Linked DNA regions of Homo sapiens. Each later gene encodes a partner of the first gene's protein in a complex. Links are inferred from orthologs where the notes say so. Each region holds a gene or a part of one and is shown on either strand. Other genes may lie near its edges.

What was found.
Region 2: the proteins of YWHAG (region 1) and NLRP5 are in contact, whole or in part, in a cryo-EM structure (PDB 8XI3), measured with the Mus musculus proteins. The link is inferred for Homo sapiens from one-to-one orthologs. Residues at the interface, in NP_061359.2 of Mus musculus: Phe201, Tyr216, Thr220, Met223, Gln224, Arg227, Asp228, Thr231, Ser235; in NP_035990.1 of Mus musculus: Ser1030, Cys1031, Ser1055, Gln1058, Cys1059, Pro1060, Val1061, Glu1084, Phe1087, Val1088, Lys1089.
Region 3: the proteins of YWHAG (region 1) and NEDD4L are in contact, whole or in part, in a crystal structure (PDB 6ZC9), measured with the Homo sapiens proteins. Residues at the interface, in NP_036611.2 of Homo sapiens: Lys50, Arg57, Arg61, Lys125, Arg132, Tyr133, Gly174, Leu177, Asn178, Val181, Tyr184, Glu185, Leu225, Asn229, Leu232, Trp233; in NP_001138439.1 of Homo sapiens: Pro444, Arg445, Ser446, Leu447, Ser448, Ser449, Pro450.
Region 4: the proteins of YWHAG (region 1) and TLE6 are in contact, whole or in part, in a cryo-EM structure (PDB 8XI3), measured with the Mus musculus proteins. The link is inferred for Homo sapiens from one-to-one orthologs. Residues at the interface, in NP_061359.2 of Mus musculus: Lys50, Arg57, Arg61, Lys125, Asp129, Arg132, Tyr133, Gly174, Leu177, Asn178, Val181, Glu185, Phe201, Asp202, Ile205, Ala206, Leu208, Asp209, Glu213, Tyr216, Lys217, Thr220, Leu221, Ile222, Met223, Gln224, Leu225, Arg227, Asp228, Asn229; in NP_444484.1 of Mus musculus: Phe137, Leu138, Ser139, Glu140, Ser141, Asp142, Leu144, Gln145, Leu295, Arg347, Asn430, Leu447, Gln470, Met472, Asn489, Asp510, Asn511, Thr512, Met530, Pro553, Arg555.

Annotation. Positions count from the first base shown.
Region 1 is NC_000007.14:76,348,970-76,355,991, reverse strand, and holds part of YWHAG (14-3-3 protein gamma), read left to right. Parts: intron 1-7,022. UniProt on the Homo sapiens protein: Adapter protein implicated in the regulation of a large spectrum of both general and specialized signaling pathways. Binds to a large number of partners, usually by recognition of a phosphoserine or phosphothreonine motif.
Region 2 is NC_000019.10:56,024,768-56,031,789, reverse strand, and holds part of NLRP5 (NACHT, LRR and PYD domains-containing protein 5), read right to left. Parts: intron 4,878-7,022; coding exon 3,281-4,877; intron 1-3,280. UniProt on the Homo sapiens protein: Component of the subcortical maternal complex (SCMC), a multiprotein complex that plays a key role in early embryonic development.
Region 3 is NC_000018.10:58,327,222-58,334,243, forward strand, and holds part of NEDD4L (E3 ubiquitin-protein ligase NEDD4-like), read left to right. Parts: intron 1-1,773; coding exon 1,774-1,906; intron 1,907-3,516; coding exon 3,517-3,693; intron 3,694-6,596; coding exon 6,597-6,671; intron 6,672-7,022. UniProt on the Homo sapiens protein: E3 ubiquitin-protein ligase that mediates the polyubiquitination of lysine and cysteine residues on target proteins and is thereby implicated in the regulation of various signaling pathways including autophagy, innate immunity or DNA repair.
Region 4 is NC_000019.10:2,972,937-2,980,563, forward strand, and holds the start of TLE6 (transducin-like enhancer protein 6), read left to right. Parts: upstream 1-4,627; 5' UTR 4,628-4,674; exon of another isoform or gene 4,675-4,683; intron 4,684-5,261; 5' UTR 5,262-5,297; coding exon 5,298-5,348; intron 5,349-7,163; coding exon 7,164-7,246; exon of another isoform or gene 7,247-7,471; intron 7,472-7,627. UniProt on the Homo sapiens protein: Component of the subcortical maternal complex (SCMC), a multiprotein complex that plays a key role in early embryonic development.

The DNA.
Region 1 (7,022 bases):
ATTTTGAAAAGAAGGAAAGAGGAATGTTAGGTCTTTTAAGACAGATGTTTAGTCTTGTATTGAAGGAGAGTGAACACCTAGATGTATCCTACGTATTAGACAATACTGTCTTGTCCTTTGACTTTTACTAGTCTCTTGAGAAGTTAATATTTTAAATAGGCTACTGGTACTTGCCTTGGGGAGAAAAGGTTCAGGGTTACTAATTTTGTTGAAGTTACTGAGTTAAGCAGTTTAACTCAATGAGGGGTGGGAGGGCAAAGGTGGCAAAAGGCTATCATAATTTTTCTAAATATTCCTAGTGGGATCAATAGACTTTCAAATTCTTTCTATCTTAAATATTCCATTCCCCCTCCCCCCCAGGCTCTTCCAGGAGATCAATAGCTATTATCACTAATGGAGTAATGGTACCTCTGTAGACTCTTCAGAGGTGGAGTTCTGCCAACCATTATTCTAAGTCATGTGGCTTGAATTGTTCTCTTCTTGGGCGTGGAAAGAATACAGATCATACAGCTTGCCTTTCATGTGTTAGCCTTCCCAGTAACTGAAGCAGATATTAAGTGCTTTTTCTGATTATTTTGGAAATCTATGTGTTTTTTGAATTCTACTGAGATTCAACATGGCGCTAAATGTTCATCCTCATTGCAGTCCTGGATTAACTGCAAACCTAAGAGTAGGATTTCATCTCTTGTACTCAGGGAAGCCTTATTTATTAAGCCAATCTTTAAATTATTGAAAAGAGTGGAGAAAACGATGTGTTTTTATCGAGGTAAAAGTTGCGTAACATAACTGTCACATAGTCACATCAGATTTCAAGTGCAATTGAGTGGCATTGGGTACATTCCGTGTTGTGCAGCCATCACCTATGTTGAAGAAGAGAGAAAGTGGTTATTTTTAAAAAGTGATGCCGGTCTGGACTACAGCTGGCTGGAATTCAGCACCTATTCAGGAATGTGTCGATAATGGAGTGCCCACAACAGCTCACAGCCAGCGATAATTGTCTATCCCTTTGTCTTCATTTCCAAGCGTCTGAACTGAAAAAAGGGAATTAGCTTTAGCTACGTTTGTACTGTATTTCCACTTAAAAAGTTATGGAACTTGAACACTGTATAATGTTCACCCAAATAAATAAGAACAATTTACTTGAAATCTGAGCAAATCGTTAACTCTTTGGGGATTATGGAAATTTTGCTGGTGTTCTAGTGACTCGTTTTCAGCCCTAAGGCTGGCTTTATTATCAGTGATTTGCCGCCTGTGTGGTAGTGGTTTCCTAATGAGTAGGATGCAGGGTTGAGACTGGGGAGCTCCTGCAGCATGAGGCTCTTAACTGATGGGACGCCAGCACAAGACATTCAGTACATTGTGGCTGTCAGGAGCTGGATGGGAAAAGTAGTTACTTTTCCCTTCTTTGCCCATTCCCAATATCAGCAGTCCTAACCTTATTTTATTTTATTGTATTTTATTTTAATTTTTTTGAGACGGAGTCTTGCTCTGTCACCCAGGCTGGAGTGCAGTGGGCAGTGGTGTGGTATCTCGGCTCACCGCAACCTCTGCCTCCCAGGTTCAAGTGATTCTCCTGCCTCAGCCTCCCAAGTAGCTGGGATTACAGGCACCCACCACCACGCCCAGTGAATTTTTGTAGTTTTGATAGAGACAGGGTTTCACCATGTTGGCCAGGCTGAGCTCGAACTCCTGACTTCAGGTGATCTGCCCACCTCAGCCTCCCAAAGTGCTGGGATTACAGGCGTGAGCCACCGTGCCCAGCCTCAAGGACCACTTTCTATGCTCGGTAGTCAAAGGGAAATACTACTTTTAAATGATATAAAACGTTATCTTCTCTTTGCCTTCTTTTGAAAGTTACTTAGTGTTTTACCAGATATTCCAGTCTATAATTATGTGTGCGTTTGATTGCTTGTTTTTTGTTTTTTTTTTTTTTGAGGCAAGGTCTCACTCTGTCACCCAGGCTGGAGCATGGCTCACTGCAGCCTCCACCTCACAGGCTAAAGCGACCCTCCAGCCCCAGCCACCCAAGTAGTTGGGACTACAGGAGCATGCTACCACACCTGGCTATTTTTTTGTACCGTTTTTTGTAGGAACGGGGTGTTGCCATGTTGTCCAGGCTGGTCTTGAGCTCCTGGACTCAAGCAGTCTGCCCATCTTGGCCTCCCAAAGTACTGGGATTACAGGTGTGAGCCACCACACCCAGCCCGGTCTATAATTATAATGCAGCTAAATGTTGCCTTTCTACAAAGGCTACCAATACCAGCTGCCTTATGGCCTCTCCTCTCAGAATTATTTTTCTGTATCTTCCCCAAATTCCATTTTAGGTGTCAGCTATCATTTTGATTAACTACCAAAACATATTATTTTACTTAAAATTGTCATTTGTAGAAATCTTGAAAATTTTGATATTTTGCTAAATGAATTTATGAATTTGAGTGGTAGAAAATTAGTTACACGAAAACTGATTTAAAAAATTCCCTGGGTCAGGCACGGTGGCTCACGCCTGTAATCCCAGCACTTTGGGAGGCTGAGGCAGGTGGACCATGAGGTCAGGAGTTGGAGACCAGCCTGACCAACATGGTGAAACTTGTCTCTACTAAAAATACAAAAAATTAGCTGGGCATGGTGGCATGCACCTGTAATCCTAGCTACTTGGGAGGCTGAGGCCGGAGAATTACTTGAACCTGGGAGGTGGAGGTTGCAGGGAGTTGAGATTGCACCACTGCACTCCAGCCTGGGTGACAGAGCAAGACTCCATCTTGAAAAAAAGAAAAAAAATTCCCAAAAGAAAGCTTTAATTTTAAGGTAAATAGTTATAAATAATTGGTTTGCTACCATGATTTTGTAGAAAAAATAAAAATTGTAAATCTTAAAAGACCATGTGCATGAGTCTTTTCTTTCTGTTTAAAGAACTGGTGAAGTCTTAGTTAAATTGCTCCCAGCATTTCACTTGTTAAGTGTGTGTCCTACAGAAATAGACTTTTCTTTACCTGAGTTGAATACTACTAATATGTGCTGCATGGCATTAAGTTTTGGTTATGGGCCGGATGTAGTGGCTCACGCCTGTAATCCCAGCACTTTGGGAGGTCGAGGTGGGTTGATCACTTGAGGTCAGGAGTTCAAGACCAGCCTGCTCAACATGGTGAAATCCCATCTGTACTAAAAATAACAAAAATTAGCTGGGCATGGTGGCGCATGCCTGTAATCCCAGCTACTAGAGAGGCTGAGGTAGGAGAATCACTTGAACCCAAGAGGCAGAGGTTGCAGTGAGCTGAGGTCATACCACTGCACTCCAGCCTGGGTGACAGTGTGAGACTCTGTCTCTAAAAAAAAAAAAAAGTTTTGGTTGTGAATAGGAAAGAGAGTGTTCTTACATAATTTAGATTTTTAACATAACATTAAAACAATAAAATTATTCCAAATAAACTCTTGGGCTTCTTAACCTTTGGAAGGGTACCTGTCTTTGGAGAGAGAAAGCCCATTTTGGTGAGTGGGACCCAGGTACCCAGCTTTCCTCTGAGCAGGGGTGTCCGAGTTGGGAGTATGACAGTGACAGCAGTGGCCAGCTGAACACGTAATGACAGTAGCTGAAGAGGAGTCACTGATCCACCCCCAACCTGCCGCAAGCTGAGTATGAAGAGCAGCTGCCGTGGGCAGGGAAGTGAGGAATGGCTAAGGGAGCGAGGGGAAGGCTTTAAAAAGCCAGGTTTCTTTTGAAGCCGTAGAGATGATTTACATTTCTTGAGCTGTCTGAAAGGAATTACTCATATGACTCTAAAGCTACCATATTTAAAAAACCCAGATCTGGGAAACAAAATGCCTATGGTGCTAGTTCTTTAAGAATGTAGAAATCAGCTTGAATTTTTGACTGTTTCTATACAGACTGCTTTTGTAGCAATCTAACATGAAGCAGTGAGCATGTCTTTGCAGTGGAGGTGCAGCATAGTGAGTAGCCATGCGGATAACCCCATACTCATTGGCAGTATGTTATAATGTGAGGGCCCGCCTGGCCTGGGTAGGCTAAAGAGCAGTGGTCCCCAACCTTTTTGGCACCAGGGACCCGTTTCATGGAAGACAGTTTTTCCATGGACTGGGTGGGGTGAGGGGTAAGGGGATGGTTTGGGGATGAATCAAGCACATTGCATTTATTGTGCACTTTATTATTGCTACATTGTAGTATGTAATGTAATAATTATACAACTCACCGTAATGTAGGATCAGTGGGAGCCCTGAGCTTGTTCTACAATTAGATGGTCCCGTCTGGGGGTGATGGGAGACAGTGACAGATCATCAGGCATTAGATTCTCATAAGGACCATGCAGCCTACATCCCTTTTGTGTGCAGTTCACAGTAGAGTTGGCACTCCTTTGAGAATCTAATGCCACCGCTGATCTGACAGGAGGCGGAGCTCAGGTGGTAATTCGAGCAGTGGGGAGTGACAGACTTCCTGCTCTGCAGCCAGGTTCGTGACAGGCCATGGACCCGTTGGGGACCCCTACTATAGAGAATAGATGTTATTATTTTCAAACCTTCACATTGGGTCTTGTATCTGTGTAATAGAGGTTAAGACTGGAAGTTATTTTTCCTACTAGGTTGAAAAGACCCTACTCAGAAAGGCGAGAAGAATGAACAGGAGAGGAGAATACGAACAACAGAAAAGGGCATTCCAAGGCGAGGAAAGCTAGTGGGGACAAGGGAGTAGGGAAGGAATATTCTAGAATATCTTGGATCTTGGAATGCCATGCCTATTTAAGGGAGTCTGTAGTCTTTGGAAGGCTGTGAACAATGGGATTGACTACTGAAGACAAAAATGTTGGTGGCCTTTCAGGATGCTAGAAATTTCGGGGGGAAATGACAAGAAGAATCACCATAATGATTCACATGCAGGGATATTTCCATCGTGTCTTTTTCTACAGTTTATATTCTTTTGCACCTTGCTTTTTTCACTTGACATCATTTCAATGATATTCTGTCATTATTTTCAGTAGCTGAATAATCCTGTGGATATATCATAATTTAATTATTTTTTTGCTTAGTATTCAGGCTGTTTCCAAATTTACATTGTAAATAATATTGATGTGTGGGTATAGATGGTCCCTGATTTCAGATGGTTTAACTTAACGATTTTTCTTTTCTCTTTTCTTTTTTTTGAGACAGTCTTGCTCTATTGCTCAGGGTGGAGTGCAGTGGCGCGATCTCAGCTTACTACCACCTCTGCCTCCTGAGTTCCAGCGATTCTCCTGCCTCAGCTTCCCAAGTAGCTGGGATTACAGGCATGTACCACCACGCCCGGCTAATTTTTGTATTTTTAGTAGAAATGGGGTTTCCCCATGTTGGCCAGGCTGGTCTCCAACTCCTGGCCTCAGGTGATGTGCCCGCCTTGGCCTCTGGAAGTGCTGGGGTTACAGGCATGAGCCACTGCGCCTGACCTTAACCTGACAATTTTTCAACTTTATGATGGTGCAAAAGCAGTAGGCATTCAGTAAGCTCCTCCACTTAGGATGGTCATGTCCCCATAAATGAGTTGTACATGGAGGAGTATCTGGTATCTTTCAGGCACAATTCGTACGTTAAGACAGACCCAAGAGGGGAATTGCTGGAAAACCAGCTAAGAATAATGTTTAAGGTCCTCACTAGTACAGGACCTTGAAAGTTTTGAAAGATGTGTTTGAATAGGTATTATGTATACATGTTTCAGAATTCAAAAGGCACCCATTGCCCTTTGTCCTCTAGGAAGGAAAATGAGGTTGAAGCAGGGGTAGGCTCGATGCCAGCTTATTTGAGGCAAGGGCCCATCTCCCTTATGCTTCTTTGGAGTGATTGCCTTTTTTTTCCCTTTGACTAATGGAAACTTTCAAACATACAAAATAAAGACAAATAGTACAGTAACCCCCGTACACCCAGCTTCACCATTTTTCAGCACATCGGTCTTTTATCTGTATTTTCTTACTCTTCTGGCCTCCTCGGGGATTATTTACCAATTTGGAAGATGGCTTTTTGGAGACAGTCTTGCTCTGTTGCCCAGGCTGGGGTACAGTGGTGCAATCTCAACTCACTGCAACCTCCCCCTCCTGGATTCAAGCAATTCTCCTACCTCAGCCTCCCCAGTAGCTGGGATTACAGGTGCCCACCACCACGCCTGGCTAATTTTTGCATTTTTAATAGAGACCAGGTTTCACCATGTTAGCCAGGCTGATCTCGAACTCCTGACCTCAAGTGATCCACCTGCAGGCATGTTTTTGTTTTTCATCGTTTGCTGGCCATGTAGAAAAAGACTTCAGATGTTTGGAACTTGATCTATTTATTGAGGAAGGGCAAACAATATGGCACAACTTCAAACAAAGCTATCATTAACAGATTAAATTTTTACAACTTACATAGAATGTATTTCTACCAACATTATTTGGAGCTGTGGCATGTAGATTCTCAAAAACACTTGCTGAGTGAATTACAACTACCTGTTACTTTCATTTTTTGGTACCCTGTTGCATTTTGATCTTGGTTTTCTCTTTTCATCATCTGGCTGTGTGTGTGTGTGTGTGTGTGTCTGTGTGTGTGTGTGTGTGTGTGTGTATTAATAAATGATGACCAAAACGCGTCTGGACCGCAATGGAAAACTTAACGGTACTTTTTGGTATTTTTTTTTTTTTTTTTGAGACAGAGTCTGCTCTGTCGCCCAGGCTGGAGTGCAGTGGCGCGATCTCAGCTCACTGCAAGCTCTGCCTCCCAGATTCACGCCATTCTGCCTCAGCCTCCCGAGTAGCTGGGACTACAGGCGCCCACCACCACGCCCGGCTAACTTTTTGTATTTTTAGTAGAGATGAGGTTTCACCGTGTTAGCCAGGATGGTCTCAATCTTCTGACCTCGTGATCCACCTACCTCGGCCTCCCAAAGTGCTGGGATTACAGGCATGAGCCACCACACCCGGCCGGGAAGACGAGATTTTTTAAATTACACACTTAGATGAAATATTGTAATATAGTTTGACGTTTACTGTCACCTTGGGAAGCATTTTTATGTA
Region 2 (7,022 bases), on another chromosome or scaffold:
ATATGTTAATGGAATATTACTCGTCCTTAGAGGAGGACATTCTACCGTTTTTGACAGTGTGGATGAACCTGGAGGATATTATGTTAGGTGAGCTATACCAGTCACAAAAGGACAAATACTGCAAAATGCTGCATGAGTCTACATTTTTTTTTTTTTTTTTTTGGAGACGGAGTCTCTATCTCCCAGGCTGGAGTGCAGTGGCATGATCTTGGCTCACTGCAACCTCTGCCTCCCAAATTCGAGTGATTTTCCTGCCTCAGCCTCCCAAGTAGCTGAGATTACAGGTGCCCACCACCATGCCTGGCTAATTTTTGTATTTTTTTAGTAGAGATGGGGTTTCACCATGTTGGCCAGGCTGGTCTCAAACTCCTGACCTCAAGTGATCCACCCACCTTGGCCTCCCAAAGTGCTGGGATGACAGGCGTGAGCCACCAATACACTGGGCTCATGATTCTACTTTGAAATGTCTAAAATAGCAGAAAGTAGAGTGGAGGCTGCCGGGGGCCTGGGGAGCAGGGGAGATGGAGTTATCGTTTCATGGGCATGAAGGGTCAGTGATGTGAGATGAAAAAGTTCTAGAGATCCATTGTTCAATGTCGTGCCTGTAGTTAATATTGTATCGTACACCTAAAAATTGGAGCAATTAGTCTCCCGTCCACTGGCAATCATCTCCTGTCTGAGTTTATACCTTCCCACGTGTCTGAGTGTATACCTTCCCACGTTTGTGAACAGGGAGCTAACCTCATGGGTTTGCCCTCAAGAATAAAAGAAAAATAGAGGCCGGGCGCAGTCGCTCACGCCTGTCATCCCGGCACTTTGGGAGGCCAAGATGGGAGGATCACAAGGTCAGGAGTTCAAGACCAGCCTGGCCAATATGGTGAAACCCCATCTCTACTAAAAATACAAAAGTTAGCCGGGTGTGGTGGTGGGCAACTGTAGTCCAGCTACTAGGGAGGCCGAAGCAGGAGAATCGCTTGAACCCAGGAGGTGGAGGTTGCAGTGAGCTGAGATCGCACCACTGCACTCCAGCCTGGGTGACCGAGCAAGACTCCGTCTCAAAAAAAAAAAAAAAAAAGAAGAAGAAAGCGAATGAATGTAAGTATAGCACAGGGTAGCTGTGAACACAAGTAGCTTTGACTTTTTATGATATGTAAATTTCCCATCTCAGTGCTTAGCCTGTGGCTGCGCACGTTTTCAGCCAATCTACAGGAAAATTGCCCAGGCTGTGACTCCTCTTGGCTGTGGAAAGAACAAAGTAACGGGCAAGCTGTTCTTTCTTTCTGCACTGACATGAGCTCACCTCCTAAAAAGCAAGCATTTGTACTTGTTTTCCAACCAAAGGTAGCTGCCCTGTTATCAAGGCCTTAGCACACAGCAGGTGCTGTGCCAGACCTCTTCCATGTGAGAATTTTTTTTTTTTGAGATAGAGTCTCACTCTGTCACCCAGGTTGGAGCACAGTGGTGCCATCTTGGCTCACTGCAACCTCCGCCCGCGGGGTTCCAGCAATTCTCCTGCCTCAGCCTCCTGAGTAGCTGGGATTAAAGGCACCCACCACCACGCCCCACTAATTTTTGTATTTTTAGCAGAGATGGGGTTTCACTATGTTGGCCAGGCTGGTCTCGAACTCCTGACCTAGTGTGATCCACCTGCCTCAGCCTCCCAAAGTGCTAGGATTACAGGCATGAGCCACCGCGCCCAGCCCCATGTGATAATTTGAGGCTTTTTTTATTTTTTGAGATGGAGTCTCACTCTGTTGCCCAGGCTGGAGTGCAGTGGCGTGATCTCGGCTCACTGCAACCTCTGCCTCCTGGGTTCAGGCAATTCTCCTGCCTCAACGTCCTGAGTAGCTGGGATTACAGGTGTGCGCCACCATGCCTGGCTAATTTTTGTATTTTTAGTAGAGATGGGGTTTCACTATGTTGGCCAGGCTGGTCTCGAACTCCTGACCTCGTGATCCACCCACCTCAGCCTCCCAAAGTGCTGGGATTACAAGCATGATCCACTGCACCCAGCCTGTCCACAGACAGGGTCTTACTTTGTTGCCCAGGCTGGTCTCAAAAACCTGGCCTCAAGTAATCCTCGTCCACCCAGCCTGTCCACATTCGTCACTGCTGTGTTCTGGGTCATAGGAGGATGACACTGAGACAGTCCAGCAAAGTGTGTTTTCTAGACCTGCACTATTCAGCAAGCATCAGCTATGTGTGACTATTTAAATACAAATGAGGCCGGGCACAGCAGCTTATGCCTATAATCCCAGCACTTTGGGAGGCCAAGGCAGGTGGCTCACCTGAGGTCAGGAGTTCGAGATCAGCCTGGCCAACATGGTGAAACCCTGTCTCTACTAAAAATACAAAAATTAGCCAGGTATGGTGGCACTGCCTATAATCCCAGCTACTTGAGAGGCTGAGTCAGGAGAATCGCTTGAACCCGGGAGGCAGAGATTGCAGTGAGCAAAGATCATGCTGCTGTACTCCAGCCTTGGTGACACAGTGAGACTCTGTCTCAAAAAAAGAAAAAAATACAAATGAGTTGAAATGGAGTGAGATGAGTTTCACCTCCACAGTCTCACTCACCATGTTTCAGATGCTCAACAGGCTTATGAGGCTGGTGGCTGTCCTACTGGACAAGGCACATGGAATATTTCCATCACAGAACCCTCTACTGGACAGCACGGCCCTGGACACCATACCAAATAAGCAGTCCACAAACCTGAGCGGTCACATTCATGGGAGGGGCTTGCTGATGCCTGTAATCCCAGCACTTTGGGAGGCTGAGGCGGGTGGATCACCTGAGGTCAGGAGTTCGAGACCAGCCTGGCCAACGTGGCGAAATCCCATCTCTACTAAAATTACAAAAACTAGCTGGGCATGGTGGTGCATGCCTGTAGTCCCAGCTCCTCGGCAGCCTGAGGCAGGAGAATCTCTTGAGCCTGGGAGGTGGAGTTTGCAGTGAGCCGAGATCGTGCCACTACACTCCAGCCTGGCAACAGAGTGAGACTCTGACTTAAAATAATAAAATAAACCACATATTCCTGGGTTTCAACCCCAGAGCCTTTCCTTTAGTCTTAGGCGGGGCCCTGTATTGTGAAAGACCTTTCCCAGGTGTGGACAATGAGCCAGATTCCGGTCCTGGCATTTTAGCCAGCTGGACGTCATCTGGGCCATTCATCCTGAAAGAATTCTCTGGGACCTTGAAGTTCCTGGAAGTCATGTCAAGTCCCAGCAGTAGAGACACAGAGCTCAGCACACGGCATAGGATAAAACTGCCTGGGGTACTCACCATAGAGGGACCACAGGACATGCCTCAGCGGACTCATCTCTTGGGAAGATCCCTTTGACATCCACCCGAATTTTCCGCAAATACGGACAGTGCTGGAGGCAGAAGGAAGATGCTATCAAGTCCAGGTTCTGGTTAATCGGAAGCCACACTTCTTGGAAGCTGTTTAATGCCAAGCGAACAAACTCTTTGTCTTGAGTCTCGAAAAGACAGTGGAAGGCGTCCAGGGTGTCTCCTGGGGTGGTGGCATTAGGCTGCTGACCCAACAGAGAGACCCAGTGCAGAAGCTTCTGCTTCACCCCCAGGGGAACGGGACAGCCCAGCAGGACCTCCAGTGGCCTCCTTACGTCTTCGCTCACGAGGCCAAACAAGAAACGCTTCATCCAAAGCGAGTGGATATGGAAGCCTGCCTGTTTAAGCTCCATGGACCTCTTTGTCTTCTCAACGTACAGAGGGCAGAGAGCTGGCTCGATTTCCAGGCCCTCTAACACGTAGTACAAGGCGGCACAGAAGTCCTGGAGACTGAGGTGGAAGAAGGTGTAGTACTCCTCACAGTGGCTGTCTGGGAGAAGGATGTTCATGTGAAACAGAGCACGGAGCTCAGACTCCCCGAGTCCTTGAACCATGAGGTCGTCACCGTCAAACACTGACTTCCTATTCCACACTCCCTCCACAGCCATACGGCAGAAGCGCTTCAGGACAACTCTTTCCTCCAGATTGAGACAGCGCCGGACCACGCCTCGAGGGGTGAGCTGATGAAACACAAAAGCGGCGTGCAGGCCTGTGAGCGTTTGGTTGAAGGGGGCGACGCTCTCCCCCACCACGTCCTGCAGCTGCAGGGCCACGCAGATGAGAGAGCCCACGGCGGGCACCTGGCACTGGTCGAGCAGCTCACGGTTGTTCATGATCGCACGCAACCCTTGTGTCTTCTGATGCTCACCAATCCCGCGCTCAAGGAGCAAGTGGATTCTTTGTTCCCCGGAGATTCCTCTAACTAACAGGTAACGGGGAGACACGACCTCTGACTTGAGCTTCTCTGTGCCCACGTCTCTGACGGTGACGATCAGGAAGGACTCAGGGAGCAGGACCTTCCTCAGCAGACTGCGTATGAGGGTGAACGGAGGCTGCTTCTCAGCCCAGTCTTTGCAGAGCTTTGTGTCATTGTTGAGGACAGAGCCCAGGTCATCGAAACCGTCAATGATGAACAACAGCCTTTCTGGTCGGGACATGATCTCCGTCACCGGAGCCTGGGAGTCTGGCCACTCCCTGGAGATGAACTCTGTGACACTGCTCTCCTTCTTCCGCTGCATCTCTCTAACGGGGAGGAAGAAGACGTAGGAGAACATTCCCTGGTAGAGTCCACCTTGCGCCCAGCACAGCACGATCCTTCTGGCTAGAGCCGATTTCCCAATTCCTGACTTTCCGTGCAGAACCACCGTGCGAGGCCGGAAGCCCCACCGGTCTGAATCAAAAGCACCAGCCAACGTTTGCATTTCCGGCCAGTCAGCAGCAGTGTTTTCAAAACTACGACGTACATCCTCCTCCTCAGCGAATTTGGTCATCACGTGACTCTTGTAGTCCCATGTGTCACCTCCATGTCCTGGAGTCAGAGAGGGTAGAATGAAAATCAGGAAACAGACCAGGCACAGTGGCTCGCACCTGTCATCCCAGCACTGTGGGAGGTCAAGATGGGCATATCACCTGAGGTCAGGAGTTTGAGACCAGCCTGGTCAATGGCAAAGCCCCGTCTCTAATAAATACAAAAATTAGCTAGTCATGGTAGTTGGCACCTGTAGTCCCCAGCTACTCAGGAGGCTGAGGCAGGAGAATTGCTTGAACCCGGGAGATGGAAGTTGCAGTGAGCTGAGATTACACCACTGCACTCCAGCCTGGTCACAGAGCGAGACTCTATCTCAAAATAAAAATAAAAATAAATCGGGAAACAAAATTTGAAGCCAGTCTATTTTTTTTTTTTTTTTTTTTTTGAGATGGAGTCTTGCTCTGTCACCCAGGCTGGAGTGCAGTGGCGCAATCTCAGCTCACTGCAACGTCCGCTTCCTGGGTTCACCCCATTCTCCTGCCTCAACCTCCTGAGTAGCTGGGACTACAGGTGCCTGCCACCACGCCCAGCTAATTTTCTGTATTTTTAGTAGAGACGGGGTTTCACCGTGTTCGCCAGGATGGTCTCAATCTCCTGACCTAGTGATGTACCCACCTCGGCCTCCCAAAGTGCTGGGATTACAGGCATGAACCACTGCGCCCAGCTGAAGCCAATCTGAATTTTAGTAAAAATATACCTCACAGAAACCCTGGACCGAGCATCAGTGGGGCCTGAGTCAGCCTCCAGACATGGGTCTTGTTTCTTCCTAGCCAGGTGCTGAGAACATGCTCACTCTTCGTTCCCTACTTTAAAGGCCTCAAAAGCTTCTTAACAATCTACAAAATAGCTCTGCTTCCCTTGTTCAACCCGATGTCCCTTTTTGCACTGGGGACCTGATGGGTTACGCTGTATTTGCTGATGGTCTCCCCCCGTAGAATCTAAACATGGACTTTCTTACTCACTCTTGGACCTTCAGTATTTATGACAGTGCCTGGCACTCTGTGGGAAATCAAGTATTTGTTAAATGAATGATGTATGCCAACATAAGTGGCCTTGGGGAGGGGGAGGGGAACTTGAGGGAGCCACGGATGCATGTACCATGGCCCCAAGTTCTACACCTGTAGGACAGGTGTGCCCCTCCTGTTCCATCCCTTGGTTTCCCCCACGCAATGGGGGAATCCTGCTGTACATAAAGAGGGGAATGGCCGGATGTGCTGGCTCACCCCTGTAATCCCAGCACTTTGGGAGGCTGAGGCATGTGGATCACAAGGTCAGGAGATTGAGACCATCCTGGCTAACACAGTGAAACCCCGTCTCTACTAAAAATACGAAAAAAAAAGTTAGCCAGACATGTTGGCGGGCGCCTGTAATGCCAGCTACTCGGGAGGCTGAGGCAGGAGAAAGTCATGAACGCAGAAGGTGGAGCTTGCAGCGAGCCAAGATTGTGCCACTGCACTCCAGACTGGGCGACAGAGCGAGACTCCATCTCAAAAAAAAACAGAGAGACAGAGAGAGAGAGAGAGAGAACGGAGCACGTTCCTTGAGGTCAAACAGATCCCGCCTGGAACCCAAGCTCTACGGTAGAGCAGTGATCCCCAACCTTTTTGGCACCAGGGACCGGTTTTGTGGAAGACAATTTTTCCACACACCGGGGTGGAAGGGGGTGGTTTTGAGATGACTCAAGCACATTATGTTTATTGTGCACTTTATTATGATTACATTGTAATATATAATGAAATAATCATACAACTCACCATAATGTAGGATCAGTGGGAGCCTGAGCTTGTTTTCCTACAACTAGATGGTCCCATCTGGGGGTGATGGAGACACTGACAGATCATCAGGCATTAGATTCTCATAAGCACGCAACCCAGATCCCTCACATGTGCAGTTCACAATAGGGCTCATGCTCCTGGAAGAACCAAATGCCACATCCGATCTGACAGGAGGCAGAGCTCAGGTGGTAACATGAGTCATGGGGAGCAGCTGTAAATACAGATGAAGCTTTGCTCCCTCCTGCTATACTGCCTGGTTCCTAAGAGGCCACCCTACAAGTCCATGGCCTGGGGGTTGGGGACCCCTGCTGTAGAGCATCTGTATGATTTGATACAAGCTGCTGTTCAGTTTCCCCACCTGATGAAGATT
Region 3 (7,022 bases), on another chromosome or scaffold:
TGAGTAGCTGGGATTACAGGCGCCCGCCGCCATGCCCAGCTAATGTTTGTATTTTTGTGAAGATGGGGTTTCACTGGCTTGGTCAAGCTGGTTTCAAACTCCTGACCTCAGGTGATCCGCCCACCTCAGCCTCCCAAAGTGCTAGGATTACAGGTATGACCCACCACGCCCGGCTGAAAAATGCAGTTCTTAATCCAAGTTCGGGCTCACATGTAGTTTTGGGAGAAGGCAGAGGCATAACTGCCCCATCAAGGAGGCAGCAATGCCAAAGGGAGAGGCTGAGCCAGGAAGGACACAGCAGAACTTGGCAGAACCTGAGGAGCGCCTCCTTCCAATGGGCATAACTTCTAGAAGGCAAGAGGAAAGTTAGTTAAGGAAAAAGAGTTTCCACCACAACCTCTGCTAGCAGGCCCTTTATTGGGATACAGTATAAGTTCATTTCAGAATGTGTGAGAAAACTTTAAAATTTGTGTTTTAGAAAGAGTCTATAATGAGTGTTCTTGATAAGTACTATATTTCAGTTAGTCTGAAATGACGATTTCAACTTTTGAGATACTGACTTGTGACATAATTTTTGTTAATGGGATATGTTATCTTATTGAAAGTATCTGTGAGAGTTTTCCCTGAAAAAATTTTTGGCATTTAAACTTGTACACTAAAAGCCTCTGACTAGTATTTCCCCCAAAGTATGATTGCCTATAATTTACTGCAAAAAAAAAAGTTTTCTTTTTTCTTTTTTTTTTTGTTTTGTTTTGTTTTGAGATGGAGTCTCACTCTGCTGCCCTGGCTAGAGTACAGTGACATGATCTCTCAGCTCACTGCAACCTCTGCCTCCTGGGCTCAAGTGATTCTCCTGCCTCAGCCTCCTGAGTAGCTGGGACTACAGGCACGCATCACCACACTCGGCTAATTTTTGTGTTTTTAGTAGAGGCGGGGTTTTGCCATGTTGGCCAGGTACGTCTTGAGCTCCTGACCTCAAGTGATCCGCCCGCCTTGGCCTCCCAAAGTGCTGGGATTACAGGCATGAGCCACCATGCCCAGCCCAAAAAAGTCTTCCAAATTGAATCAAAACTTTTAGATCCTGAATTGAGAACATCACATGACAAAAAATAGGGTATGATGTTTTGGTGTTCTTCAGACCCCGGCTGACTTGAGAGGTTATCTCCTGATGTTATTAGGATTTTTAAAGTAGGGTAAAGGAGGTAAATGCAGTGTCACGATTTTGAGATTCTGTTAAAATGAGCTAGAAAGCAGCTGAAAAAAATTCATGTTGGATCAGGTGTACTTTCCTCCAGATGACAGCTTTGAATTTGTCCCTTTTGTAGTCTTTGGTCAAATTGCTGGTGACCAGAAGTAGCTGCCTTGTCATTGCTGGACTTCTAGAAGGATTGGGACTGCCCAGCTGCTGTGTGAACTTGCCTGTCACCTCTGCTTCCAGAGGTCTGACTTGTCACTGTGGCAAATGGGCAGAGGACTTTGATTTCTGTTTTTTATTAAACACTGAGGTATATTTTGAAATGTATGCCTGAAAGATGCTCAAAATGGTGTGACTAATGCATTTTAAAACTGCATTTATTTGATTGAAATGAACCTTAACCTATACTTTAGCCGTAATATGGTGGGAGAATTCTCACATTGGATGACCAGCTAGTTGTCAGTGTTTGACGCTGACACTTTAGTGGCCATCTGGCCCTCCGTGAGCATTGAACTGTCATGAAGGGCCCGATCTCAACCACTTCTCTTCTTCTCTTTCCCCCTTTCCTGCATGCTCAGGGACGTGTCCTCGGAGTCGGACAATAACATCAGACAGATCAACCAGGAGGCAGCACACCGGCGCTTCCGCTCCCGCAGGCACATCAGCGAAGACTTGGAGCCCGAGCCCTCGGAGGGCGGGGATGTCCCCGAGGTACGATGTCCCCAGAATGGTGCAAAGCCCGGCAGCTCCTTCTTCCCATGTTCTCCAGCTTGATTTTATATCATAATTTCTTCTGTCAGTAAACATTGTTGAGAATGTAAAGATTACAGTGACGCAGGGAATTAATTACCATCTGAATATTAATTTGAAAGTGCCTATAAAAGCCGTATTTGACAAGTATAGGTGGCTCTATATTATAGAAATGGGAATAACATTATTTTTATTTTTATTTTTTTTGAAGACAGTGTCTTGCTCTGTCGCCCAGGCTAGAGTGCAGTGGTGCAGTCTTGGCTCACTGCAACCTCCGCCTCCTGGGTTCGAGCAATTCTCCTGCCTCAGCCTCCTGAGTAGCTGGGATTACAGGCACGCATCACCACACCCGGCCAGTTTTTGTATTTTTAGTAGAAATGGGGTTTCACCATGTTGGCTAGGATGGTCTCAATCTCCTGACCTCGAGATCCGCCTGCTGCCTCAGCCTCCTAAAGTGCTGGGGTTATAGGTGCATGCCATCACAATGGCTAATTTTTTTTTTTTTTTTTTTTCCTAGTAGAGACGGGTTTCACCATGTTGGCCAGGCTGGTCTTGAACTCTTGACCTCATGATCCACCTGCCTTGGCCTCCCAAAGTGCTTAGATTACAGGCGTGAGCCACTGTGTCCAGCCCACATTATTTTTCAGTATGAAAATCTTAAGATATTTTTAGTTTGTAATTTATTTTTCACAGGGGTCTAACCATGTCTCATTAAATGACAGCTTGTTTTTATCATAGTTGAGCTGTTGAATGAGCCCTGTAACTTGTTTGGGTATCATATGCATATTTTTATTGAGTCGCTTTGACACTTGGAAGAGATTTATTACCATGAAAATATAAATTTAGGTGAACAGAAATGTGTAATTTTCCCTTTAAATAGTTATGGTATGTTACTTAAAACGTTATGAATTAAACAACAAATTAGCCATAATCTTCCATGCTATCTTACCAGCTCTGTTTATGTACTAAAAATCCATTCTTCTTAGACATTGTGTTAGGAAGATCATTTAGAATGCGGCGATTCAACTTGGAAAAGCAAAAGTAATGATTCCATAACACATTCACTCTAAGTTATTTTATACCATTGTTTAATTACAGCGTATAGCTTCTATGCTGCTCCCACGGTGAATCCTCAGTGGTTAAAAGTAAAAGAAAATCCATGACAATTGTTTATAAACTCCAGAGAAGTGTGTGTGTGTGTTTGTTTTTTTGCCCACACATATAGTAACAAGTGCTGGAAATCAGTCACTGTTCAGAGAGGCATTGTTATAAAGTGGTTAAGAGCACAGCCTCTGTCTGGAACCAGGCCTCTTTGATTCACATCATGGCCCTACCACTTGCTAGATGTTACCTTGGGCAGGTTATTTTCTGTGCCTCAGTTTCCTCATCTGTTAATTGGGGGAGTTATCTTCCTCGTGATTATTGTGAAGGTTGTGTGCCTCATGAGAGGCACTTAGTAGGTGTTAATTATAGTTATCACCGGGGCTATTGTTGTTACATGGTTTCATTGGGGAGCTGGGTGGATCCCTACTTCTTTCTAGTGTTTACCCCAGTGTCTCCTTCTCTGAAAGCCTTGGGAGACCATTTCAGAGGAAGTGAATATCGCTGGAGACTCTCTCGGTCTGGCTCTGCCCCCACCACCGGCCTCCCCAGGATCTCGGACCAGCCCTCAGGAGCTGTCAGAGGAACTAAGCAGAAGGCTTCAGATCACTCCAGACTCCAATGGGGAACAGTTCAGCTCTTTGATTGTAAGTAGTGGCCTTGTTTGAAAGAAAAGCTGAGCAATGTTTTATTGTTTTTTGTTGCTTAAGGAGAATCTCTTACGTAAATAGTGACCAAGGGTCTTCCAGCTCCCAGCTAACTCTGACATTTTCCAAAGTTCCTCCTTCCCTAGGAGAAGCAGGACTGTACTAAAATTAGCCCAAGCAGGTGAGAATCTTTCTTGATTTGGAAGGCAGCTTTGCTCACCCTTATACCACTAACACTTTCTTGGTTTATAAAGAACTCAAAGAAGTAAAACTCCATGATGTCTGTAATTATTAGCTTTAACCTTGTAGAATTCCTTTCCCAGCCAAAAGGCTCATGAAAATAGTACCTTTATCACAAAGGTAGTATTTCACAGTAACAATTAAAAGCCATCAGGCCTAATCAGTCCTCTTAAGTCATATTCTGCAGGATTTATCATTCTCATTTCGCTGATAAGGGCACAATGCTTAAGTGGCTCATCCAAGACAAGGTTTGAGTGGGAGATAGAAGACGTCTCCTAAGTCCCAGAGTATGAACCCTTGAGAAATGTTGTGAAATTGTGACACTGTCATCAAGGTAGCATTTTAACTTGGGCTCTCAACCATCAGAAACATACTTTCTAGAAGCTTCAGATGGGCCCAATGCCTGAGCCCAATGGAATCAGTCACAAAGACTTCCATGTTTGACAATACAAAACTGTGCAGAAATAACCCATAGAAAATCCCTGCTTGTGCATAGAATTAAGAGCAAATGAAGTCTCAGTGTTTCTCAAGAAACTGAACTTAAAAATGTACAATAGTAAATGATGATAGTCACTCCACTGAAAATGGCATCCTAAAAAAAAATAGTCATTACTATGACCATAACAAACATAAATGATAGCACTGCATACAATGTAAAAGCAAGTAAGTACTCACAAAATTGTTACTTTTTGGTTATGGTGTTTTTATTTTAAAAGACAGTATACGCCTCTATTACATGAGTTGCATTTATCATTCAGTTAATGTGATTTCACTTTGAAATTCTGTGACTTTTTCAAAAAGAGATGTGTCGCCAAGATGAAAATGTAGTACTAAATGGACAGGATAAAAGAAATTGCATATATATGGGATATTTGAACTGATAAAACTGTTGTTATAGAAACAACATAAACAATGAAGCCTTGTATTTAAAACCTATAAAAGCAAGGAGGTACCACAGAATCCATGGCAGTAACACACCTTTAGTAAACCAAGTAAACACTGTAATTTTTTTCAGCAATAATCATAAGTTAGCAATTCTAATTATTTAAATGAGGAGCTCCTGAATTTAATTATTCTAGATCTGTGAAATATCATTAAGACCCAAATACAATGTTGTATTATTTCACATCGTGTTCACTGTTAAATGAGAGTCAAATCGGATATTTGCTCATTGGGATTACCCTGTATTCAAGGGGAAGAACATGAGCTTTGGCTGGGCACGGTGGCTAATGCTTATAATCCCAGCACTTTGAGAGGCTGAAGCAGGCGGATCACCTGAGGTCAGGAGTTCAAGACCAGCCTGGCCAACATGGTGAAACCCCGTCTCTACTAAAAATGCAAAACTTAGCCGGGTGTGGTGGGGTGCACCTGTAGTTCCAGTTACTCAGGAGGCCAAGGCCCAAAAATTTCTTGAACCCAGGAGGCAGAGGTTGCAGTGAGCCACGATTGCGCCACTGCACTCCAGCCTGAGCAACAGAGTGACACTTTTATTAAAGACTGATTCTTTCACAGTAACCAATGTGGGAAGATGTGAATTGTCCCCCATCCCTACCACAGAGTCTTCTTGTACCATTTACTTATCACAAAATATTAAAAATGAGTAAATACTAGAAACTGATACTATGGATGAACTTGCCGATAAGGAGACTCTGGCTTCTGTGTGTGACCTGCTGCTAATCTTCATTCATATCAATTAGGCTTCATTTAACCACATAGACTAATACAAACAAGTTAGAGGAATATTAAGACACTACACAGTAGATCTTTTTTTTTAGCTTGATCTCACTATTTTTAATCATTCCTGTCTTTACTACTTGAAGTCCACTTAGAAGCTAAAATTGGCTGAGCATGGAGGCTCACACCTGTAATCCCAGTACTTTGGGAGGCCGAGGTGGGTGAATCATCTGAGGTCAGGAGGTCGAGACCAGCCTGACCAATATGGTGAAACCCCATCTCTACTAAAAATACAAAAAATTAGCCAAGTGTGGTGGGGGGGGCTTGTAGTCCCAGCTACTCAGGAGGCTGAGACAGGAGAATCACTGGAACCTGGGAGGCAGAGGTTGCAGTGAACTGAGATCATGCCACTGCACTCCAGCCTGAGCAATAGAACAAGACTCTATATTTAAAAAAAAAAAAAAAAAGCAGCTAAAATTATAAATACCAGATCTTTCAGAAGTAGGCCAAGATGATGTCTGAGCTCCTCTGAATATAGGATGCAACTGACTCTTTTTCAATTGTAGTAATCAATAAATGTTGGGTAGCCACATATCACTATTTCTTCCGTCTATTCACATCACATTAAAATTTACCCTGAGGGTGCATCTTAGAGCAAACTACAAGACTGCTAGCTTCTTTCTGTTTGTAAAGCAGCATTAGAGTGTTGCAGAGTCCTGTTGAGTCTCCTTTCTGAAAGTTTTGGTCTCCTCTTACTTTTGCCACTAATTCTAAGGACCAATCAAAATTCCAGTCTGCTTAACTGAAAATTAAAGTGAAAGATAACTTTTTCAAGGATGACTGTCCTTGCTCTGAAAAGATGTTTCATTTAATTACCTTCTAATATCGAAGAGCGGTGAATATGGTTGAGTGATATGTTTGTTAAACCAATGAAAGTTGCTTTTAAGAATATATTTCTTGATGCTTCCTGTCTTTTCCTCTCCTTCCAGCAAAGAGAACCCTCCTCAAGGTTGAGGTCATGCAGTGTCACCGACGCAGTTGCAGAACAGGGCCATCTACCACCGGTAACCCATGCTAATTTCCAGTCATCAGTTGACTTTTTGGGCTTTCATTTACAATCATCTGGGCTGCTGCAAAAAGAGTTTTTCCTGTGTAAATTTATTTACAATATAAATGAGATGTTTTTAAATTTCCTGGCCAATTGCCCTAGGAAAGTGGATTTCCAATACAGAGAATTGTTACTGCCACCCATCTCTAAAATGCTGGAACCTCCATTGCTTTAGTTTTTCACCCAAATTTATACCAATTTTGATTTGCTCACTTAAACCTCTTGGTACATTAGTTAGTAATTCCTTTTACCTTATTGAGTTACTATAGTTATGCTCCAGTGATCTGTACTTTGAAAACACATTGAG
Region 4 (7,627 bases), on another chromosome or scaffold:
AAAAAAAAAAAAAAAAAAAAAGGCTCAGGCCTGTAATCTCAACACTTTGGGAGAACGAGGTGGGGGTGGATCCCCTGAAGTCAGGAGTTCGAGACCAGCCTGGCCAACATGATGAAACCCTGTCTCTACTAAAAATACAAAAATTAGCCGAGTGTGGTGGCACGTGCCTGTAATACCAGCCACTCAGGAGGCTGAGGCAGAAGAATCGCTTGAACCCGGGAGGTGGAGGTTGCAGTGAGCTGAGGTTGCACCATTGCACTCCTGCCTGAGCAACAGAGTGAGACCCCTTCTCAAAAAAAAAAAAGAGTAGAAATGGAATGACTACTGAAAATGTGCTTCCGATTTCTACATGGACCCTGGAGGAATTTCTCTTTCCTAGGAGCCTCCAATCAGTGCTGTCCACTGGGACTTTCTGTGATGACAGAATGTTCTAGATCTTCGCTGTCCAGTACGGTGACCCCCAGACGCCAGTGACGACTGAGCGCCTGACATGCGGGCAGGGTGCCTGAGGAATGGAATTTTAAATTGTATTTCATTTTAATTAATTTTAACTTAAATAGCCACATGTGCTTACTGGATACCCTGTGAGACAACCCTGTGAGTCTTGGATAAAGCAACGTGCCCAGCTGAAAGTCTACAATCAGAGGGAGGGGAAAAAGCAAAGCCCATATTAGGAGGCTGGACCATAAATAAAACACACTTTAATTATGCAGCTGGGTGCAGTGGCTCACGCCTGTAATCCCAGCACTTTAGGAGGCCGAGATGAGTGGATCACTTGAGGTCAGGAGTTTGAGACCATCCTGGCCAACATGGTGAAACTCCATCTCTACTAAAAATACAACATTAGCTGGAGGTGGTGTGGTGGCGGGCGCCTGTCATCCAAGCTACTCAGGAGGCTGAGGTAGAAGAATCGCTTGAACCCAGGAGGCAAAGGTTGCAGTGAGCCAAGATCGTGCCACTGCACTCCAGCCTGGGCGACAGAGCAAGACTCTGTCACAAAAAAATAATAATAATAGCCAGGCGTGGTGGCTCACACCTGTAATCCCAGCACTTTGGGAGACCAAGGCAGGTGGATCACAAGATCAGGAGTTTGAGACCGATCCGGCCAATATGGTGAAACTCCATCTCTATTAAAAATACAAAAATTAGGCGGGTGTGGTGGCGGGCGCCTGTAGTCCCAGCTACTTGGGAGGCTGAGGCAGGAGAATCGCTTGAACCTGGGAGGTGGAGGATGCAGTGAGACAAGATCGCGCCACTGCACTCCAGCCTGAGGGACAGAGAGAGACTCTGTCTCAAAAAAATAAGTAATAAAAATTAAAAAATAATAATTATGGGACAGTGGAGGGTTCGTGGGTGGGAAGCTTTTCTGCAGGTCTTTCATGACGGCCCCTCCCTTTGTTCTCCATGGACCAGCTGCAAAACCCAAGTCACGTGTGCACATCACCACCTCTGGGGGCTACTTGTCCCAGCATTGAAACCCTCAGTTCCCCGCAGCGAGAGAGCACAGAACAGAAAACAGGGAAGAGTTTCTCTGGCTGGGTTTGGATCTGAAGTCAGCAGACCTATCGGGCATTTGTGTCACATGGGGAGGTCAGAGGATGGGAGGCGTCTCTGTAGGAGAATCCTGACAGCATTCTCTGCATTTAGAACATGCAGGGCTTAGAGCTATCGTGGGAGGCTCCCGCCACAGGAGCCACTGAGATTACAAGATTAGCTGCAATCCAAACCACATTCGGAAAAAAATAAAATAAGAAAGGGAGATACAGGCCCGGTGGCGGCACAGTGGCTCATGCCTGTAATCCATAGTACTTTGGGAGGTGGAGGTGGGAGGATCACTTGGGGTCAGGAGTTCAAGACCAGCCGGGGCAATGTACTGAGACTCCCCTCCCCCTCGCCCTGTGTTTAAAAAAAAAAAGAGGAAATAAAGGGAAATATAGGGAAGGGAAGGGAGGGTTGGGAGGTCTCTTCAATGAGATCCTTCCTTCCTTCCTTCCTTCCCTCCCTCCCTCCCTTCTTTTTTTTTTTTTGAGATGGAGTTTCACTCTTGTTGCCCAGGCTAGAGTGCAATGGCACGATCCTGGCTGACTGCAACCTCCACCTCCCGGGTTCAAGCGATTCTCCTGCATCAGCCTCCCAAGTAGCTGGGATTACAGGCGTCTGCCACCACACTCAGCTGACCTTTGTATTTTTAGTAGAGATGGGGTTTTGCCATGTTGGCCAGGCTGGTCATGAACTCTTTTCTTCTTTTGAGGCAGAGTACTCTGTCGCCCAGGGTGGAGTGCAATGGCGACATCTTGGCTCATTGCAACCTCTGCCTCCCAGGTTCAAGTAGCTGGGATTACAGATGTGCATCACCGTGCCCGGCTGATTTTTGTATTTTTAGTAGAGGTAGGGTTTCAGCATGTTGGCCAGGCTGGTCTGGAACTCCTGACCTCAAGTGATCTCCTGCTTCGGCCTCTCAAAGTGCTGGAATTACAGGCGTGAGCCACCACGCCTGGCCTGATGTGGTGATTTTTTTTTTTTTTTTCTGAGACAGAGTCTTGCTGTGTCACCCTGGCTGAAGTGCAGTGGCACAATCTCGACTCACTGCAACCTCCGCCTCCCAGGTTCAAGTGATTCTTCTGCCTAAGCCTCCAGAGTAGCTGGGACTACAGGTGCCTATCACCATGCCTGGCTAATTTTTGTATTTTAGTAGAGCTGGGGTTTTCTTTTTTTTTTTTTTTTTTTGAGACAGAGTCTTGTTCTGTCGCCCAGTCTGGAGTGCAGTGGCGCAATCTTGGCTCACTGCAAGCTCCGCCTCCCGGGTTCACGCCATTCTCCCGCCTCAGCCTCCTCAGTAGCTGGGATTACAGGCACCCACCGCCACGCCCGGCTAATTTTTTTGTATTTTTTATTAGAGATGGGGTTTCACCGTGTTAGCCAGGATGGTCTCGATCTCCTGACCTCGTGATCCACCCGCCTCGGCCTCCCAAAGTTCTGGGATTACAGGTGTGACCCGGCCAAGCTGGGGTTTCACCATGTTGGCCAGGCTGGTCTCGAACCCCTGACCTCAGATGATCCACCCACCTCTGCCTCCCAAAGTGCTGGGATTACAGGCGTGCACCACAGCACCTGGCCCAACGTGGTGATTTCTAAGTAGGGAGCTGAGGGAGTAAGGAGCCAGCCGGTGGCTGTCTGAGAGAGACTGTCCCTGGCAGAGTGAACTGCTAATGCCAGTACCAGGTCCTGGGCCAAACAGAAAGAAACGGGCTCTCACTCCAGAACTGCAGCTTGACCACTATATATATAATATATATACTTTATATATATTATAGCTATATATTTTTTTGAGATGGAGTCTTGCTCTGTTGCTCAGACTGGAGTGCAGTGGCACGATCATAGCTCACTCCAGACTCAACCTCCTGGGCTTACGCCATCCTCCTGCCTCAGCCTCCCCAGTAGCTGAGACTACAGGTGCATGACCACCACACTTGGCTAATTTTTAAATTTTTTGTAGAGACGCGGTGTCACTGTGTTGCCCAGGCTGGTCTCCAACTCCTGGCCTCAAGCAATCCTCCCACCTCAGCCTTCCAAAATGCTGGGATCACAGGTGTGAGCCATGGTGACTTGGCTTCATATTTTGAATAGGCCAAAACAAAACTCCGAAATCCCCTTACTCCTATCCCCACGACCCCACACAGCAGGTTTCTCTCGCTCTGCAGCAACCCACTTACCTCTCGGAAATCATCCCAGGCCTGTTCGGAGTGCACGCAGCCCCGTTAGCCTCCCTGGCTGCTCCTGTAACCAGCCCAGCTCTGCCTGAGAGGTTCCGCTATTCCCTCCGTCTGGAATACCCACCACTCTCTCCCACCCCGCGCTTGCATCCGGCAATACTGTATCAGCCTCAGGGCCTCTGCTGTCCCGCTTTCTGCTCTCAGAGCCTTTGTCACTGGGCTGGAAGAGCAGTTGGGAAAATTCGGTGATAAATGCATAGCCCGGGGCTGGGACCATCAAGGGGACCCAGTAAGTTGGCTCCAGAAAGAGGACTTGAAGCTTCGTTTGCATTGCACGTTATTTAATATTGAGGAAAATGTAATTAGCCCGTATCTAAGAATTGGGGTGACAGCGCTAAAGATTGAACCCACCCACCTCCCACTCCTCACCTCCAGCCATAAGCCACTTCCGGACAAGGCTAAAAATGCGTAAAACAATGCAACTACTCGCCACCTATCCCTGCCCAAGTTCCAGCCTCTGAGCCTCAAGCCCCACGCCCTCCTAAATATCCCCGCCCCCGCTGGGACCCCAAATTGCCTATAGCTCTGCAAGTCCGCCCTTCCCGGCAGCGGGACCGAAAGGGTAAAGCAGAGGCTCCCGGCTCGCTGAGTGACAGCATGGCCGGCGGCCGGGGAGAGCCGACCAATCAGGGAGGGCGTACGCGACCCACGTGCGTAAACGGCCTCGCTATTGGCCGGCGCCGCCAGAGGCCTGCCCCCCCCGGAGCCCGAACCCACGTGCAGCTACTGCGCCTTCATTGATCTGCTTCGCGGTCCAGGTGGCGGCTGGGTGGGGCCTGGGCGGGACGGGGCGGGGACAAGGCGGGACGAGGCGGGGCCCGATGGGTCAAATGGCCCCCGGTGGGGGAAGGAGGAGTTTCCTCTTGGCCTGAACTTGGCTGACCTCCGCAGCTTCCGCCCGGTGAGGGACGTGAGTTGCCAGGCGTGTTCTAGGGGGCTGGGGGGACTCCAGGATTCCCGGCCGGGGAAGGGGCTGCAGGGGCGTGGAGGGGCAGGACTGAGGCAAGGAAGAAGCTGGGTGCTGCAGCAGGGATGGAGGTGGAGAGAGGTCGTTTCTTCTGTCTGATGAATTCCGCCTAATGCACCTGGCTAACTCCTAGTCATCCTTCAAAACCCCTTTCTAGTGATCTCCCTGCGCTTTAGGAAATTGTCTCAAAACTAAGGTTGAGCTTTGGCGACCTTCCCTGGGCTCCCCCGTCCCTGACTGCCCCCAGCAGGGAGTGTATGTGCACTATCCACCCCAGCCTCCTAGGGTGAGGCCTGGGAGGCAAGGCTCAGTTCTTTCTGGGTCCCCGCCCCCATGAATCTGGGCAGCTGGAGGCATTGATAAGTGAGGACAGGACCTAGGGAACGCATGGGAGAACCGCAGGATTGGGTCCCTGGAGACTTACCAAACTGGGAGGTGCGGGTGGGGTAACGGGTGCCTTGCTTCCCTGGCACTGCCTTATTTTCTGTCCCTCAAGACCTGCCGTCTCCTTGTTGTTTTAGACTCTGGCTAAAGTCTTGGAGGCTACTGCCTTGAAGATGACCTCTAGGGACCAGCCCAGACCCAAGGGCCCCCCGAAAAGCACTTCGGTGAGGAGGGCATGTGGTGGGATCAGCCCTCAAGGGAAACCCGGGCCCAATGTGGTTCTGCCCCTTTTCCACCTGTGACCTGGGCTGGCCCCGCCCAGGCCTCGCAGCTGAAGACAATACTGGTCGCTGCTACACTCAAGACAGGTGCCAAGGAGCCGTGTTTTTTAAAAAAAATTAAGTGTAGGCTGGACACTGTGGCTCACAACTGTAATCTCAACATTTTTGGAGGCCGAGGCAGGAGGACCACTTGAGCCCAGGAGTTTGAAACCAGCCTGGACAACGTAGTGAGACCCTGTCTCTGTAAAAAATAAAACTAGAAGAATCAGCTGGGCCTAGTGACGTGGGCCTGTAGTTGCAGCTACTTGGGAGGCTGAGGCAGAGGGTTGGCTTGAGCCCAAGGAGTTTGAGGCTGCAGTGAACTATGATGGTGCCACTGCACTCCATCCTTGGTGACAGTGAGATCCCATCTAAAAAAAAATGTAGCATCTAATCACATATGTGATAAAAACACAGGAACACATCATGTATTTGGTTGATGTTTTACAAGCAATCCCCGCTCCCTGCACTTTGCGTCCCAGAGATGACCATTTGTAAATTTAGGCTCTCAGGGCTGAGCAGACGTTTTTTTTTGTAAAGGAGTCAGATGAGGGATATTTTGTTTTGAGACTTTATGATTTTATTATGTTTGAGACGGAGTCTCACACTCACCTCGGCTGGAATGCAATGGCGCAATCTCAGCTCACTGCAACCTCTGCCTCCCGGGTTCAAGTGATTCTCCTGCCTCGCCTCCCGAGTAGCTGGGACTACAAGCACCTGCCACCATGACCACCAAATTTTTCTTGTATTTTTAGTAGAGACTGGGTTTCACCATGTTGGCCAGGCTGGTCTCGAGCTCCTGACCTCGTGATCTGCCTGCCTCAGCCTCCCAAAGTGCTGGGGTTATAGGTGTGAGCCACCACACTTGGCCAAGAGACTTTATTTTATTGAGTCTTGCTCTTGTTGCCCAGGCTGGAGTGCAGTGGCGCGATCTCGGCTCACTGCAACCTCCACCTCCCAGGTTCAAGTGATTCTCCTGCCTCAGCCTCCCGAGTAGCTGGGATTACAGGTGCGCGCCACCACGCCCGGCTAATTTTTGTATTTTCAGTAGAGACGGGGTTTTGCTGAGTTGCCCAGGGTTGTCTCAAACTCCTGACCTCAGGTGTTCTGCTCACCTCGGCCTCCCAAAGTGCTGGGATTACAGGCATGAGCCACCTTGCCCGGACTTTTATTTTTAAAAATATTTTGTGCTTCTATTTTCATCACAAGAATGTGGTGAACATTTTAGACTTTAGGCCAAAGTGCAAAATGGAAGATGCTCTTTACTGAAATAAGAGAGGCCGGGCGCGGTGGTTCATGCCTGTCATTCCAGCACTTTAGGAGGCCGAGGCGGGTAGATCATGAGGTCAGGAGGTTGAGACCAGCCTGGCCAAGATGGTGAAACCCCATCTCTACTAAAAATACAAAAATAAGCCAGGTGTGTTGCCGGGGGCGGGCGGGGGAGGGGGGCGCGGGCGCATGTAATCCCAGCTACTCGGGAGGCTGAGGCAGGAGAATCGCTTGAACCCGGGAGGCAGAGTTTGCAGTGAGCTGAGATTGTGCCACTGCACTCCAGCCTGGGCGACAGAGCAAGACTCGGTTTCCAAAAAAAAAAAAAAAAGCAAAAACCACAATTACTTTTGCACCAACCTAATGCCTATGCCATGTTGAGGTGGAGACCGGGGGTCTTGGGTGTTGGAGCATTGTAAGTTTTATGTAACCTTGCTTTGACCTTTCCAGCCTTGTCCTGGGATCTCGAACTCTGAGAGCTCTCCGACGCTGAATTATCAGGGCATTCTAAATCGGCTCAAGCAGTTCCCCAGGTGAGAGCAATTCCAGGGGCCGGAGGTCTCACGCTGGGAAGGAGCCCCACCTGGCCTCTCTCCCGGGGGTCCTAGTGAGTGGTCTAGAGGCTGCTGGCCCAAGAGCCAGGCTCAGGAACAGGAAGCCATGCAGATACCCAGCATGGAGAACCCGGCAATACCCATCCCAGCTTTTGATTAAACAAAATTACCAACAAATATTAAAATTTTGATTTTCCTGTTCGACATGGATTTGTTGGCATTCAATTTTATTGTTGAAAAATACTGCAACGGCTGGGTATGGTGGCTCGCACCTGTAATCCCAGCACTTTGGGAGGCGGAGGCGGGCGGATTGCTTGAGGTCAGGAGATCAAGATCAGCCTGGCCAACATGGTGAAACCG